Linked DNA regions of Homo sapiens: region 1 is linked to region 2. Evidence: fine-mapped expression QTL. A gene starts in region 2. The other region holds a variant in brackets. All regions are shown on one strand. Distances are from middle to middle. Region 1 overlaps LINC00904 (long intergenic non-protein coding RNA 904). Region 2 holds the start of GRAMD1A (GRAM domain containing 1A).

Region 1 (8,403 bases), 100 kb before region 2:
ATGATCGTACATATAGAGAATTCTAAAGAATCCATAAGAAACCTGAGAACTCAGCCTGGGCGTGGTAGCTCACGCCTGTAATTCCAGCACTTTGGAAGGCCGAGGTGGGCAGACGATGGGGTCAGGAGTTTGAGACCATCCTGGCCAACATGGTGAAACTGTCTCTACTAAAAATACAAAAATTAGCTGGGTGTGGTGGCAGGCGCCTGTAATCCCAGCTACTCGGGAGGCTGAGGCAGGAGAATCGTTTGAACCCGGGAGGAGGCAGAGGTTGCAGTGAGCCGAGATTGTGCCATTGCACTCCAGCCTGGGAGACAGGGCAAGACTCTGTCTCAAAACAAAACAGGCTGGGCACGGCTCACCCCTGTAATCCCAGCACTTTGGGAGGCCGAGGCGGGCAGATCACAAGGTCAAAAGATCGAGACCATCCTGGCCAACATGGTGAAATCCTGTCTCTACTAAAAGTACAAAAAAATTAGCTGGGCATGGTGGTGTATGCCTGTAGTCCCAGCTACTCAGGAGGCTGAGGCAGGAGAATCGCTTGAACCTAGGAGGGGGAGGTTGCAGTGAGTGGAGATCGTGCCACTGCACCCTAGCCTGGGCGACAGAGTGAGGCTCCATCTCAAAAAAAAAAAAAAAAAAAAATACTGTTCAAAAAAGGCAGAATTCAAAAAATGAAAAGGTAAACTATAACAAGAAAAAATATTTGCAAAATATGTGTCTAACAAAGGACTGCTACAACTCAATAATAAAATATCAGTCCATTCGATAAAAAATTGGCAAACATTTAGCTATACTGACCAAGATAAAAGGAGAAAAGATTCAAATTACCAAAATCAGAAATGAAAGAGGAAACATTACTATCAACATTATAGAAATTAAAAGAACTATAAAGGAATACTATGAACAATTTTATACCTAGAAATAATATAATTTAGGTGAAATGAACAAATCCCTAGAATCACAGAAACTATGAAAGCTAACTTGAGAAGAAATAGGATAATCTAATAGGCATACAACAAGTGAGGAGTAATTAATTCATAATCAAAAAACCACCCACAAAAAATTCCAGGTCCAGGCCAGGAGGAGTGGTTCACCCCTGTAATCCCAGCACTGTGGGAGGCCAAGCCACCCAGATCACTTGAGGTCAGGAGTTCAAGACCAACCTGGCCAGCATGGTGAAACCCATCTCTACTAAAAATCCAAAAACAAAAAAATTAGCCAGGTGTGGTGGTGCATGCCTGTAGTCCCAGCTACTCAGGAGGCTGAGGCAGGAGAATTGCTTGAACCCAGGATGTGGAGGCTGCAGTGATCCAAGATCACTCCACTGCACTGCACTCCGGCCTGGGCAACAGAGCAAGACTCCATCTGAAAAAAAAAAAAAAATTCCAGGTCCAGATGGCTCTACTGCTGAATTTTGCTAAACATTTAACAAAGAATTAATACCAATTCTTTGTGAACTGTTCATTTTATGGACAGTTAACTCATTTTATGAAGCCAGTATTACCTTGATACCAAAACAAGACAAAGACATCATAAGAAGAGTAAAGTACAGGCCAATATGATTCTTATGAATATGGATGCAAAACTCTCAGCAGAATACTAGTAAACAAAACCCAGCAATATATAAAAAGAATGTATGCTAGCAATGCAAGGTTGGTTTAACATCCAAAAATAAACTATTGTAATACATAATATCAGTAGAACAAAAAACAAATCATATGGTCATTTCAACACATGCAGAAGAAACATATGACAAAATTCAACATCTTTTCATAATAATAATTTTTTAAATTATTTTTATTTTTTAATATAGAGATGGGGTTTTGCCATGTTGCCCAGGCTGTTCTCAAACTGCTGAACTCAAGCAATCTGCTGGCCTTGGCCTTCCAAAATGCTAGGATTGCAGGTGTGAGCCACCATGCCTGGCCATAATAATAATTTTTTAAAAACTCAACAAAGTAGTATAAAAATGAACTTCCTCAACCTGATAAGAGCAAGTACAAAAAACCCACGGCAAACATCATAATGATTAAATTTGGATGCTTTCCCTCTAAGTTTACAAACAAGATTATAGGCTGGGCATAGTGGCTCATGTCTGTAATCCTACCACTTTGGGAGGTTGAGGCAGCCAGATCGCTTGAGCCCAGGAGTTCAAGACCAGCCTAGGTAACATGGCAAAACCCTGTCTCTACAAAAATTACAAAAAAATTAGCCAGGCATGGTGGTGGGCACCTGTAGTCCCAACTACTTGGGAGGCTGAGGTGGGAGGATCACCTGAACCCAGGAGGTCAAGGCTGTGGTAAGCTGTAATCGTGCCACTGCATTCCAGCCTGGGTGACAAAGTGAGACTCTGTCTCAAAAAAACAAACAAACAAAACAAAACAAAAAAACAAGATTATAATGTCTACTCTCATCACTTTTATTTATTATTGTACTTGAGTCTTTAGCTAGAGAAATTTGCAGATTAGAGTTATTTTGTGGGGAATGTCCAAAAGAATCCAATGAAAAATCTATTAGAACTAATAAACTAGTTCAGCAGTATTATAAGATATAAATTAATATACAAAAATCAATTGTATTTCTATACACTTGCAATGAATCATCCAAAACTAAAATTAAGTAAACAATTTCATTTACAGTAACATCATAAAGAGTAAAACATTTACGAATAAATTTAACAAAAACATTTTCAACATATACTCTGAAAACTACAAAACATTGTTTAAAGAGAGTCAAAAATATCTACAGAATAGGAAAAAGAATGCACATTCACGAATAAGAAGGCTTGATATTGTTTAAGATGACAATATTCCCCAAACTGATCTACAGATTCAAAGCAGTCTCTAGCAGAATCCCAGCTGACCACTTTGTAGAAAGTGATAAGGTGATTGTAAAATTCATATGGAATTGCAAGGAATCCTAAGTAGCCAAACATTTTGAAAAAGAAAAACAGCCGGGCGCAGTGGCTCACGCCTGTAATTCTAGCACTTTGGGAGGCCAAGGCGGGCAGATCACCTGAGGTAAGGAGTTCGAGACCAGCCTGACCAACATGGTGAAATCCCGTCTCTACTAAAAATACAAAAACTAGGCCAGGTATGGTGGCTCGTGCCTGTAATCCCAGCACTTTGGGAGGCCAAGGCGGGCGGATCACAAGATCAAGAGATCGAGACCATCCTGGCTAACATGGTGAAACCCCGTCTCTATTAAAAATATAAAAATTAGGCAGGCGTGGTGGCACATGCCTATAATCCCAGCTACTCGAGAGACTGAGGCAGGAGAATTGCCTGAACCAGGGAGTCGGAGGTTGCAGTGAGCCAAGATCATGCCACTGCACTCCAGCCTGGTGACAGAGTGAGACTCCATCTCAAATAAAAATAAAAAATAAAAAAGAAGAAGAAAGAAAGCAAGAAAGAAAGAAAGAAGGAAGGAAGGAAGGAAGGAAGGAAGGAAAGAAGGAAGGAAGGAAGGAGAAGGAAAGAAAGAAAGAGAAAAGAAAGAAAGAAAGAAAGAAAGAAAGAAAGAAAGAAAGAAAGAAAGAAAGAAAGAGAAAAAACAAAGTAGGAGAACTCACACTTACTGATTTCAAAACTTACTGCAATGGCAATGGCCAGGCATGGTGGCTCATGCCTGTAATCCCAGCGCTTTGGGAGGCCAAGGTGGGAGCATTGCTTGAAGCTGGGAGGTCGAGGCTGCAGTGAGCCATGCTCATATCACTGCACTCCAGCCTGGATGACACAGCAAGACCCTGTCTCAAAAACAACAAAAACAAAACAAAAGAAAACAAGAGTTATTGCAATGCAATAGTAATCAAGACTGTGTGGTATTGGCACAAGGATAGACATATAGATCAATAAAATAGAATTGTCTACAATTGCATGAAATAAACCCATAAATCTTGTTTGATTTTTTAATTATTTCAATCATTTTGTTACATTTCTCTGATAAATTTCTGAATTGCTTTTCGGTATTATCTTGGAAATCACTGTGTTGCCTTAAAATTGCTGTTTTGAATTCCTGATCATAGAGTTTGCCTATTGTCATCTTGCTAGGATTGGTCACTGGCTCCTTACTTTGTCCGTTTGGGGAGGTCATGGTTCCCTGTCTGCTGTTGTTTCTTATGGATCTACATCTATGTCTTTGCATTGAAGGATGTGTTAGTTATTCCAGCTTTCTCTGTCTGGTTTGTTTTTGTTTTTCTTAGATATGTTTGCTTAGAGATTCTTTGTAGTTTATCTGTTGAGTATCTTCTTCACTAGGTCACTCTCTCCTTTATGGTGCTAGGTGGCACCTTAAGCCCAGGTGTGTCTTTGCTCTAGTGAACATTTTGAGCTTTGCCCATCCTGAATGAGGGAGGTCCGAAAGGGGCTACCCTGGCAGGGTGGGAAGGCTGACTAGGGGTTTCTGCCCAGGAGACCCTCTCATTTGAGTTCTGGGATATTGCTGGTGATTATCTTTGTGCTGGATATTTGTTTCTGTTTCTGTGGTGAGAGTGAAGCCAGCTTGCTTCTACTCTACCATTTTGGA[C/A]CTAGTACAAGTACAAAACCCATATATCTTTCGTCAACTGATTTTTTAACAAAGGTGCTAAGACCATTCAATGGGGGAAAAGTAATCTTTCAACAAATAGTGCTGGGGCAACTGGATAGTAACATGCAACAGAATAAAGTTGGACCATTGCCTTGCTCCATATACAAAAATTAACTCAAGGTGAATTGACTACATAAATTAAGAGTTAAAACTATAAAACTCTTAGAAGAAAACATATAGAAAAAGCTTCATGACATTGATTTTGGGAATGGTTTCTTAGATGTGGCAGCAAATAACAAGCAAAAGATAAACTAGATAAATGTTTTGCCACATCAAAATGAATAACTTTTGTGCTTCAAAAGATAGCATCAAGAAATTGAAAGTAAAACCCATAGAATGGGAAAAAATATTTGCAAATCATATACGTGGTAAGAGGCTTGTACTCCTAATGTATAACTCTTACAACTCAATAATAAAAGATAAAAACCTATTTAAAAATAAGCAAAGGATACGAATAGACATTTCTCCAAAGAAGACATAAAAATGGTCAATTTGCAAACAAAAAGATGGTTAGAAACATTAGTCATTAGAGAAATGCAAGTCAAAACCACAATGATGTGCCATTTCATACCCACTAGGATGGCTAGAATCAAAAAGTCAGATAACAAAAAGTGTTGGCAAAAACCTGGGGAAATTGGAACCTGGAACCTCAAACACTGTTGGTGGGAATGTTGAACGGTGTAGCCACTTTGGAAAACAATCTGTCAGTTTCTCAAACTATCAAAAAGAGTTACTGTATTACCTAGTAATTCTACTTCAAAGCATGTACCCAAGATAAATGAAAGCAACCCATGCCCACACAAAAACTTGTATATGAGTGTTTGCAGCATTATTCATAATGGCTAAAAGGTAGAAACAATCCAAATGCCCAGGTGATTAATGGGTAAACAAAAGCGGTACATCCATATAATAGAATGTTATTTGGTCATAAAAACACATATTATTTAGCCATAAAAACACCCATGCTACAACATGGATGAATCTTGAAAACATTATGCCAAGTGAAAAAAGCCAGACACAAAAGACCATATATCATACAGTTCCATTTATATGAAATGTCCAGAACAGGGGATCCATAGAAACAGAAAGCAGATCAGTGGCTTCCAAGGGTTGAAGGATATAGGCTCGTAGCTGAAAAATAGAGGGTTTTCTTGAGATGATAAAAGGTTCTAAAATGGACTCTGGTAATGGTTGTACATATCTATAAATATACTACAAAACACTGAATTATACACTTTGAATGAGTAAATTATATGAATATGTGAACTATATCTCAATAAAGTGTAAAAACAAAACAAAAATTACCAATATAATGAATAAAAATGAGGCATGAATGCAGATCTGAAAGACTATTAAAAGTACAAAAAGGAACTAAAAATATCTTTCCAAAAAGAAAACTGCAGGTCTGAATGATTTTAATGGTTAATTCTATCAAACATATAAGAAAGATGTTTTACCAGCATTAAACATACTCTTTCAGAGAATAAAGAAAGCAATTTTTCCTAACTCATTCTGTGTAACTGACATTACCCTAATATAAAAACCTAGCAAGAAAGGGACACAATAGATTAATAAACCTCATGAACATAGACATAAAATTCTTTTTTTTTTTTCTTCTCGTTCTGTCACCCAGGCTGAAGTGCAGTGGCACAATCTCGGCTCACTGCAACCTCTGCCTGGGAGGTTCAAGCGATTCTCCTGTCTCAGCCTCCCGAGTAGCTGGAACTACAGGCATGCACCACCACGCCCGGTTAATTTTTGTATTTTTAGTAGAGACAGTGTTTCACCACGTTGGTCAGGCTGGTCTCAAACTCCTGACCTCAGGTGATCCACCCGCCTCAGCCTCCCAAAGTGCTGGGATTACAGGCATGAGCCACCGCGCCCTGCTGACATAAAATTCTTTCACAACATCTCTGGGAATTAAATTCAACCAAATAGAAAAGAATGACCTAGCATGACCAAGTAGGGTTTGTCTCAGATATGTAAGGTTGGTCTAACACTCAAAATTTAAAATGTAATTCACCATATTAAGAGAACAAACAAAAAGTCATATGATTATCTCAGCTTTGGACAAAGTAATTGAAAAAAATTTTAATTCTGGATATCAATCCCTTCTCAAATATATGATTTACAAGTATTTTTTCCAATTGCCTGGGTTGTCTTTTCACTCTGTTAGATAGTGTCTTTTGATGCACAAAACTTTTTAACATGTATTTTTTTGTGGCCTGGCATATTTGTTTTTGTAGTTATGGCAAGAGTTCTGAGATTAATTTTAATACACCTTTGACTCCAGACACAATAGTTCACAAGCAATCATTACTTAATTTATAAAAACATCTTTTCTATGACAACATGGGTTTCAAGTAATAGTTTTATTTTTCTTTCCAACTTTTATTTTAGGTTTAGGGGAGTACATATGCAGATTTGTGACATGGGTTGAAAAAATTTAACACCTCTTTGAAAAAATTTCTCAGTATAGAAAGAATTGGAGGGAACAGCCTTTACATGATAAAGCACATCTATAAAAGCCTTAAGTTAATAGCACACTGAGCACTTTCCACCCCCCGATCAGGAGTTGGAAAAGGTTATCTATTGTCTCCACTTGTATTAAACATTTTACTGGAGATCACAGTAACTGTAAAAGGTAAGAAAAATAAAATCATACAGATTAAAAAGAATATGCATAGAAAACATAATTGTATATGTAGAAAACACTACCCGATATACAAAGAAACTACAAGAGATAAGAAAGGAATTTACTGAGGTGCCATATAAAAAAGCAATTATTTTTGCTGTATCCTACTACATACCAATAGACAGATAGATAGACGTAGATATATATGTGCATGTATATATACACATATATGTGAGTATGTGCATATATATACATGCATATATATATATATAAATGTCTATCTATATGTACACACACACATATACACAAAATGCATACCATGATAGTGGACTGGAAAAAGTTAAGTCATCCACTTAAGATGACATTTAAGAAAGGTAAGTCATCCATTTCAACCAGGACCCTGAAAGTTGTCCATGAAATTATTACCAGAGATATTGGTGTCCATGGGGCATAGGCTTTTAAGCCAGGATAGATCCTGCACCCACCTGATGTCATCTCATGTCCTTGCACCCAGGAGGAGATGCCACACACAACTGTGTAGGTAGCTGCAAAGCTCAGTAAGAAAAGAAATGCCCAGTTTTGCTGTGCTGACAATTGTTGGTCTCTGCAAACATAGAAGGTAAGAAAGAGAAATAAAAGGCATGCAGGTGGAAAGAGAAGTAAAACTGACTTTATTCATACATGATGCATGGAAAATACATGTAGAAAACCCAAAGGAATCTGCAAAAAAAAAAAATCTACCAAAAATAAACAATGAATTTAGCAAGATCCCAATAATATAAGGTGTGTGTGTATATATGTATGTGTGTATACAAGTACTATATATACATATATATTTAATGCATTTTCTGTGTTCTACCAATGAACTATTTGAAAATAACATTTGCAAATCCCATAACATACTTAGGGATAAATTAGCAAAAGCTGAGTAAGACCTATACACAGAAAACTACAAAAGAGTAGCTGCAAACTTTCTCTGTAAAGGGTCAGGGAGTAAATAATATAGGTTTTATAGGTCACGTATGATCTCTGTCACATATTCTCTGGAATTTTCTGTTGTTTTTAAAGACCTTTTAAAGACGTTAACATCATTCTTAGCTAACCGGCCTTACAAAAACAGGCTATGAGTGGGGCGTGGTGGCTCACACTCATAATCCCAGCACTTTGGGAGGCCAAAGCAG
Region 2 (8,234 bases):
TCAGCCCTTGTTTTTTGTTTTTTGTCTTTTTCTTTTTGAGACAGCATCTCTCTGTCACCCAGGCTGAAGTGCAGTGGCATGATCTTGGCTCACTGCAACTTCCATTGCTCCCCCCTCCACCCAGCAGCTGGGACCACAGATGTGCACCACCACACCTGTCTATTTTTTTTGTATTTTTAGTAGAGACGAGGTCTGACCATGTTGCCCAGGCTGGTCTTGAACTCCTGAGCTCAGGTGATGCACCCTCCTCGGCCTCCCAAAGTGCTGGGATTGTGAGATGAGGCACCCGGCCGCAATCAGCACTTCTTTATCCAAATCAAAATAAAATAGAATTGCAAATAACACCATGCGTGAGGCCTAATGAGGGTAAGTGTGGTTTCTTACAACTTCTGTGGCATTATGTGTATTTCTAAGTGCGTGCTGGAAGCCCATGTGAAAGGTATTTCCTGCTGTAGATCACAGGCCAAAAAAACAAAAAAAAAAAAAAAAGAAGAAGAAGAAAAACAAAGAAAAAAAGAAAGTTTAAACAAAACTTCTGAAAAGAAACACTATCTCTGGTACAAGGAGACAGGAAATGGGAGGTTCAGGGCCATAGGGGGAAGAGGAAAGAACTCTACCGACCCTGAATAGAACAAGCAGCCACTGTGGTTTCTTCCAACAAGGGACACTCCATAAGCGTTAAAGTTTAGGAAGCAGAGCTTTGTGCATGGATGTGGAGAAATCGCAGAAACAATGATAATGGGGGACAGCAAGTTGCAAATGAAACAGAGGGAGCCTAATCGTGTATCTTTTTAAAAAGATACTGGATAATAGGTGATAGTGTTGGTGGATGCCTCCTGATGTAGAAAAAGGACAGAAAAGTACACAGGGTCCAGGCGTGCTGGCTCATGCCTGTAATCCCAGCACTTTGGGAGGCCGAGGCGGGCAGATTAACCTGAGATCAGGAGTTCAAGACCATCCTGACCAACACAGTGAAACCCCATCTCTACTAAAAATACAAAAATTAGCCAGGCATGGTGGCGCATGCCTGTAATCCCAGCTATTCAGGAAGTTGGGGCAAGAGAATCGCTTGAACCGAGGAGGTGGAGGCTGCAGTGAGCCAAGATCGAGCCACTGCACCACTCCAGCCTGAGCGACAGAGCAAGACCTTGTCTCAAAAAAAAAAAAAAAAAAAAGCGCAGGAAGGAAACACACCAACTGCATGGCAGGCAGAAGGCTCCTTGGGGGGCACGGGAAGGGAAAGGAGGGATGGGGAGCCAGGCCTTTGGTTGTAAGTGTAATCATTTATTTCTTTTAAAAAAAGGACCTGAAGCAAAATGGCAAAATGTCCACATCTATTCTATATAGGTACAGGGGACATAGAGGACTGTTATATTTTCTTCCTTTTTTTTTTTTTTTTTTTTTTTGAGATGGAGTCTTGCTCTGTTGTCCAGGCTGGAGCGCAGTGGTGCGATCCTGGCTCACTGCAACTTCCACCTCCCGGGTTCAAGCAATTCTCCTGCCTCAGCTTCCTGGGTAGCTGGGATTACAGGTGCAAGCCACTACACCTGGCTAATTTTTTTGTATTTTTGATAGAGATGGGGTTTCACTCTGTTGGCCAGGCTGGTCTCGAACTCCTGATAGGTGATCCACCCTCCTTGGCCTCCCAAAGTGCTGGGATTACAGGCGTGACCCAACGCGCCTGACCTGAAATAAATATTATTTAATTAAAAAACTAAAAGCATTACACTAGAAGAAACAGACCAAAGAGAAATCTAAAGAGATCAGTTGGACAGAGGAAGGTGGTGGGAGGAGGGCCTCTCTTCCATTGGCCGGTGGGAGGCAGCAAATGTCAGATGGTGGATGGGGGTTTTAGAGGTGGGGGTTAGCATGAGAGGTAGGGCACGGCGATAGGGGGGGTGCTGTCCATGCAGAGGGAATAACCAGTGCAAAGGTCTTGGGGTAGGAGGCAGGAAGGTGCCTGGTGAGTTAGAAGAACAGCGGGTAGGCTGGATGGGGGGTGTGAGCCAGGGGGAGATGAGGAGCTGAAGTCAGAGAGCTGACAGGGGCCTTGGGTGCCAAGGTGAGGACTTTGCTTTTACCTGGAGTGAGGTACAGCTGGGGCAGGGCTCTGAGCCAGGAGGGTAGTTAACTGACTCAGGTGGTCCCAGGCTCTCTCTGGCTGCAGGTGAGAACAGACAGTAGGGGCAGGGATGGGAGCAGGGAGATCAGGCAGGAGAGGATGGAGGCTGGGCCAGGGCGTGGGCAGCGGAGGAAGAAGAGTTTAGAATGGAGCGATTGATTTTATACGTGGAGCCCACAGTTTGTGACGGATTGGATGTGGTGTGAAGGAAAAGAGAGGGTCAGAAAAGACTCTGAAGTTCTGGGCCTGCCATTCATCAAAATGGAGAAGTCAGGTGGGCTTCTTTTGCAGGAGGAGGGGAAGGGTTGATGGAGAGGGTTGGGAAGGGAGTTTTTTCAAAAGAGGCGGGGACAGCGTACCCTGGAGAGCGCTGGGGAGCCACAGCCCCGGAGCTGTGAGGTGGGACTCGCATTTCTGTGTGGTTGGGCCAGGAGTCCAGGACACCACCTGACTCTGACCTCTTGCAGACGGGGCGGGGGAGGGGGGACGCAGGTTATGGCGTCAGAGCAGGATCGAATCCAACTCTGCCGCCTACCTACCAGGTGACCCCAACAAGTCACTTCCCATCTTAGAGGCCGGGCTTCTCCTTCCGTAAAAGGACTGATTTTGCCCGTTCCTGCGCTGTCCCCGGGAAAAGCCCTTACCACCGAGTTAGTGGGACTCCCAGCACTGGGGTGATGAGCGCAAGGTCTCAGCACAGATAAGAGCCAGGGAGGCTGGATTCTGACTTGGTACTTGGCCTGGCTGACCAAAACTGGGAAGTCCCTAGAAACGGAGGCACCGGACCTCCTGGGACCAGGAACCCGGGCTCAGAGACTGGGAGAGGGAAGGAGGAGGCGGCCAACCGGCCCCACCCCTTCCCGCCAGCTTCAGGCCCCCTCCCCCATACATACACCTCGGTTTCCCAGCATCTCCAGTCCTCCCCCACCTTCGCCCCGGCTCTCAGGTTCCTCCCTGGGAGGTCCAGGAGCTTCTGGCCAGGGGCATAGTAGTTGCTAGGGACCCTTTTCTAGGTACTAGGGGAGGGGGCTCCCCAACCTGCGGGCAGGCAGCTGCCTCCACGATGTTTGGTTTTAATAAAGTCTCTTTGTTTCCTTCTCTGTCTCTCTGCCCCTCTGCTTTCCCTTCTCTGTCCAGTCCCTCTCTCCCCGGCTTCTCCCTCCTTCTAGGCCTCTGCGGCCCCTCCCCGCCTTCCCTCCCGGGCTGGGGGCGGCGCCGTGACGCGGCGGGGCGGGGGAAGGAAGGGGGTGTCGCTGACGCCGCGGCGGCCTCCGGCGGCTCCGGCCTTTTGTGCGGGCGGTTGGGTCGGGTGGGGGCGGCGGCCGCGGAAGGCCAGGCCGGTGCCCTGCGGGGACGCCCAGCGCAGCCCAGCCCCGCGCAGCCCAGCCCTGCCCTGCCCTGCCCTGCCCTGCGCCCGGGGCGCGCCCACCGCGCCGCATCCATGTTCGAGTAAGGACCGGGCGACTAGAGCTCAGGGACCGGGCGCGCGGGGGAGGCCACCGGAGGGAGGGGGCGCCGCGGGCTTGGGGAGGGGGCGGAGCGGCCGCTGCAGAGGTCGGGGGCCTCTGCACATGGCTCTGGCCGGGGCGATCGGGGTGGGGGCGGGGCAGGGGGCCCCCGGGCGAGGGGTGCAGCTGGGGAGTGGGGCGCGGACGCAGGGCAGGGCCCGGGGTCTGGGTCGCCACTGCCGGCCCGCGACGCACTGGGTTGCGGGGTTTGGCTGGGGGCCCGCGGGTTCATCTGGCGGGGAGGGCCCTCAGGCCTGGCAACCCCCTGCCTGGTAAGCCAGGGGTGAGCGCGAGGCCGAACTGGGGCTCCGGCCTGGGATGGAGACAGGATCGGGACCAGCCCAGGCCCACAGGCCGCGGAGCCCTGGGCGCGCCGGGAGTAGGCAGCCCCCTCCTGCCTGGGCCCCCTCCCACCGTCCTTGGCTGTTGCGGGTCTCGGGGCTGCCGGGGGTGGGGGCTTCCTGCGTCTCTCCAGGACCGCGTGCTTGAGGTCATGGAGGGCGGGGGGTCCTGTGTGCTCGGAATTGACTTCTTACTCCCCTTCCGGTCCAGGTGGGCGCATGTGCTTCCGACTGTGAATTGTCTTGCAAGTGTGTGTACGTGTGTCTGGGGCTGCTAGCCTGCAGCAGCTTTGGGCCTCTGATAGAGTTCCTGCGTGTAACTTAACCACTAATTCTGACCGCGGCTCTGTGTGTCACTGTAAGTTACCTGTGTGTGTCTGGGGCTCCAAATCTGTGGCTGTGAGCAGCTGGTTGTGTGCGTGTTGTGTCTCATTCCATCTGTAGCTCCCTGTGCAAATATAAATTACCCCTGTGTGTCTGAGTGTGACGTTGGAGTGTTTGTACATGTGTCTGGAGTTACCGTGTGTAGCAGCTCTGATCCTTCTTGGGCTGTGTGTGTTTTACCATTAATTCTATCTGTAGCTCCAAGCGTTGCTGTAAGTTACCAGTGTGCGTCCCATTGTGACTTAGTGGTGTGTGTACAAGTGTGCCTGGGGCTCTGGGTTCTACCATGACCCTCTGTGCCTGCATATGCCTGTAATTTAGCTCTGAAACGCTCTTCTTTTTTTTTTTTTCTTTTGAAATAGAGTCTGGCTCTGTCGCCCAGGCTAGAGTGCAGTGGCACGATCTCGGCCCACTGCAACCTCCTCCTGCTGGGTTCAAGCAATTCTCCTGCCTCAGCCTCCTGAGTAGCTGGGATTACAGGCGTGTGCCACCACGCCTGGCTAAGTTTTGTATTTTTAGTAGAGATGGGGTTTCACCATGTTGGCCAGGCTGATCTCGAACTCCTGACCTCAGGTGATCCACCCACCTCGGCCTCCCAAAGTGCTGGGATTACAGGCTTAAGCCATCGCGCCTGGCTTGAAACTCTCATTTAGCTCTGTGTGCCAATGTAAGTTACATTTGTGACATTGTTGTGTGTCTGGGGCTCTGTGAGTGTGGCTGTAACTTAATTTGATTCCATCTTTGTGTGAACATTCCCTTGTGTATTCCTTTGTGACAGTATTGAGTGGTGCCTAGGCCTCTCTGTGTACAGCTGAGACCCTCTGTGGTTTTGTGTGTGTGTGAACAGTGTGAGACCCCTTGTGGCTCTCTGTAGGCTTGGAACCCTCCCTTCTAAGACCCTGGGAGTACCCAGGGCACTTTGGAGGCAATAATGATAACTGACGTTGTCCACCTGTTACAGTTAGTATAGCATGTGCCACGCATTATTCCACTACCTGGCCACTGTGTCCTCGAGATCCACGCCCTGCTCGGCTGCATTATTCCCAAGTCCTGCTTGACTGTGAGCATCAGGGCTCTCCACCAGCTACAGCCACTGACACCTCCACCCCTTGCCACTTTACTTTTTCTTTTCCTTTTTCTCTTTCTTTTAGACGCAGTCTCGCTCTGTCGCCCAGGCTGGACTGCAGTGGCACGATCTCGGCTCACTGCAACCTCTGCCTCCTGGGTTCAAGCGATTCTTCTGCCTCAGCCTCCCTAGTAGCTGGGATTACAGGTGCGTGCCACCACACCTGGCTAATTTTTGTATTTTTAGTAGAGATGGGGTTTCACCATGTTGGCCAGGCTGGTCTCAAACTCCTAACCTCAGGTGATCCACCCGCCTCGGCCTCCCAAAGTGCTGGGATTACAGGCATCAGCCACTGCGCCCAGCCCCTTGCCACTTTAGAAGTAGCCTTTTCTCTGTCTTCCCTGCCAGATGGTGAGCCCAGTGCGGGCACGGGAACAACTCAGTGGGGATGTGTTGGCTGACCGTGGGACCTGATTTACCTGGGACTATGTATGTGTCACCTGGGGTCTTTTGGGACTGGTCTTTCACTGTATGGCTGTCTTTGGCTCTTTGCTGAGACTTCCTCGTGGCTATGTGTGTGAATATAATTTATCCGGGACTTTCTGTGGGTTGCTGTATGTTTCTGTGACCCTCTGCAGCTCTGTGTCTGTGTGCACACATGCATGTGTCTGGATAACTTTTCTGGGAAATTGCCATGTGACTGTAGCAGACTAGCAATGCTGCAGGTGTGTGTGTGTGTGTGTGTGTGTGTGTGTGTAATTACTCTGTGGCTCTCTGTAGCATACCTATGATGCTGTTGCTCTGTGCGTGTGTGTGTGTGTGTGTGTGTGTGTGTGTGTGTGCATATGAGAGAGAGAGAGAGGAAAGAGACTCCTTGCAATTGTAGGGAAATGCAGTTTACCCCTGACACCTACTGTGTGACAATCATTGAGTTTCCCTTTTATGCACACCTGTGGATGCATCCGCCCTTTTCTGACCAGAGGCTGCTCTGGGTCCACTGGGGCCTAGGAAGTTGGAGGTCAGGTGTCTGCGGAAGCAAAACAACATCCCTTCCGAGTCTCCTCGCCCCTATAACAGTCCCCCAGGCTCCTCCCTTCACTCTGCCTTCAGCTATCCTGGTTGGGCAGCCGCAGGGTCCGCCCTTGAGTACTTCCTCTTTGCCCAGCCCTGGAGCAAAAACTGGGGGCGTGGTCCCTGCCCTGTCTGTGTGCCTTGAGCCTCTCTTCAGGATTCCGGCCCCCAGGCCCTGCCCCTAGATCTGTGGCTGCGGGAAAGTAGGGCAGGTCTGTGTTTCAGGCTAGAGGGCTGAGAAAAGCAGGCAGGGGAGGATGTGGTCCTGCTGCTTAGGAGTCTCTCCCTGCTCACCAGTGCTGTCTGGGTGAAGCCAAACTCCTGACTAGGGTCACCAGGCCTGTGCACCTCCGCTACTCCCTCAGCCCCACTGGCCACCTCACTCACACTCAGACCTGCCAGGCTCAGTCCTGTCCCTGAGCTTGATGTTCTCCACCTGGAGTCTTCTCCCAGCCTTTGCCACATGTGTTCTTTGTCCTCAGGTGAACAAGTGGGCTTTGTTCAGGAAGGCTTTTGCTGACTGTTACTAAAGAAATTGGTTGGGCACAGTGGCTCATGCCTGTAATCCCAGCACTTTGGGAGGCCAAGGTGGGAGGATCACTTGAGGTCAGGAGTTTGAGACCAGCCTGGGCAACATAGCAAGACCCCATCACTACAAAAAAACTTTAAAAATCAGCTAGGCATGGTGGTGTGAGACTGTAGTCCCAGCTATCAGGGAAGCTAAGGCTGGAGGATCGCTTGAGCCCAAGAGTTCGGGCCTGGAGTGACCTGGGAGGCTGAGGATTGAGAATTCCTTGAGCCCAGGAGTTCGGAGCTGCCGTTAACCATGATTTTGCCACTGTACTGCAGCCTGGGTGACAGAGTGTGACCGTGTCTCTAAAAAAAATTTAAAAAGCATCTCTGCCCCCCTAGTTGTCCCATCCCTTATCTCTGTGGTCCTCAAACTTGAATGTGCGTCGGAATCTCTGGCCCCACCCCAGTTCTGATTCAGAAGGTTGGGAGTGGGTCCTGGACTCTGCCTTTTGAACACTTTCCAAGTCCTGCCTGCTGCTCTCTGGGGCTCATACTGAGCAGCATTGCTTTATGGCGTTCACCAGTGTCTGAGGTCGCCATCCCTGCTCACTTGTTTTCTTACTGACGGTCTATGTTTCCCTGTTTCAGCGTCAGGTCCTTGCAGGCAGGGGCTTGTATGGGCTTTGCTCACTTCCTTGTGGCGGGTGCAGGGTATTTAGAGGTGAAAGGCTGGAGTTGAGGGTCAGTCATGGAGGCGCCTAACATCAGGCGTAGTGCTTGTGAGGTCCCTGTCAGGGTCAGCAGAGCGTCATGGGCAGTGGTGCACTGGGCTGGCAGCCGCGCTGTACACTCCATCTTAGTCCGCCAGTCCCTGTGGGAGGGAAAGCAGCGTAGTTAAACCAGGTGCCCTCCAGGTACTGGGCTTTGTGGATCTCACCTCACCTCCATCTCTGTGCAACCCTAGGAGGTGGGCACTAATTCCCATCATACCCAAGAGGAAACTGAGGCACAGGAGGGTTCAGACACTAGCTCAGGGTCACACAGAAAGGACGCGGTGGCACTTGACTGGAAGGTCCTTGGACTGTGGGGCCCACACTCCAGGCTGCTGCCCTGGAGACCTGCAGGGTCCAAGGAGTCGTGCACCTGCTGGAACCCAAGTTCTATGGGGGGCGGGGAAGGAGGGCCGATCACCCAGGCCATCCCCAACAGTATGTGCTCACGGAGCACCT

The links. PIP is the estimated chance that this variant, and not a neighbour inherited with it, causes the effect.
Region 1: its variant is the best candidate, but not a certain one, in a credible set for the expression of GRAMD1A in whole blood (INTERVAL, PIP 0.58).

Annotation. Positions count from the first base shown.
Region 1 is chr19:34,895,258-34,903,660 of GRCh38, forward strand. LINC00904 (long intergenic non-protein coding RNA 904) reads right to left here. Exons shown (of 6, transcript NR_187844.1): 3 at 7,708-7,826; 4 at 3,581-3,748. Among named protein-coding and RNA genes, the nearest start is that of LINC00904, 5.7 kb to the right of the region's middle. The variant C/A (reference allele first, on the strand shown) is at 4,528.
Region 2 is chr19:34,996,916-35,005,149 of GRCh38, forward strand. It overlaps GRAMD1A (GRAM domain containing 1A), which reads left to right and starts at 3,408. Exons shown (of 20, transcript NM_020895.5): 1 at 3,408-3,571. The coding sequence starts at 3,564. RefSeq lists enhancers at 793-1,468, 7,316-7,861, 7,862-8,234 and silencers at 3,243-3,622, 3,893-4,022.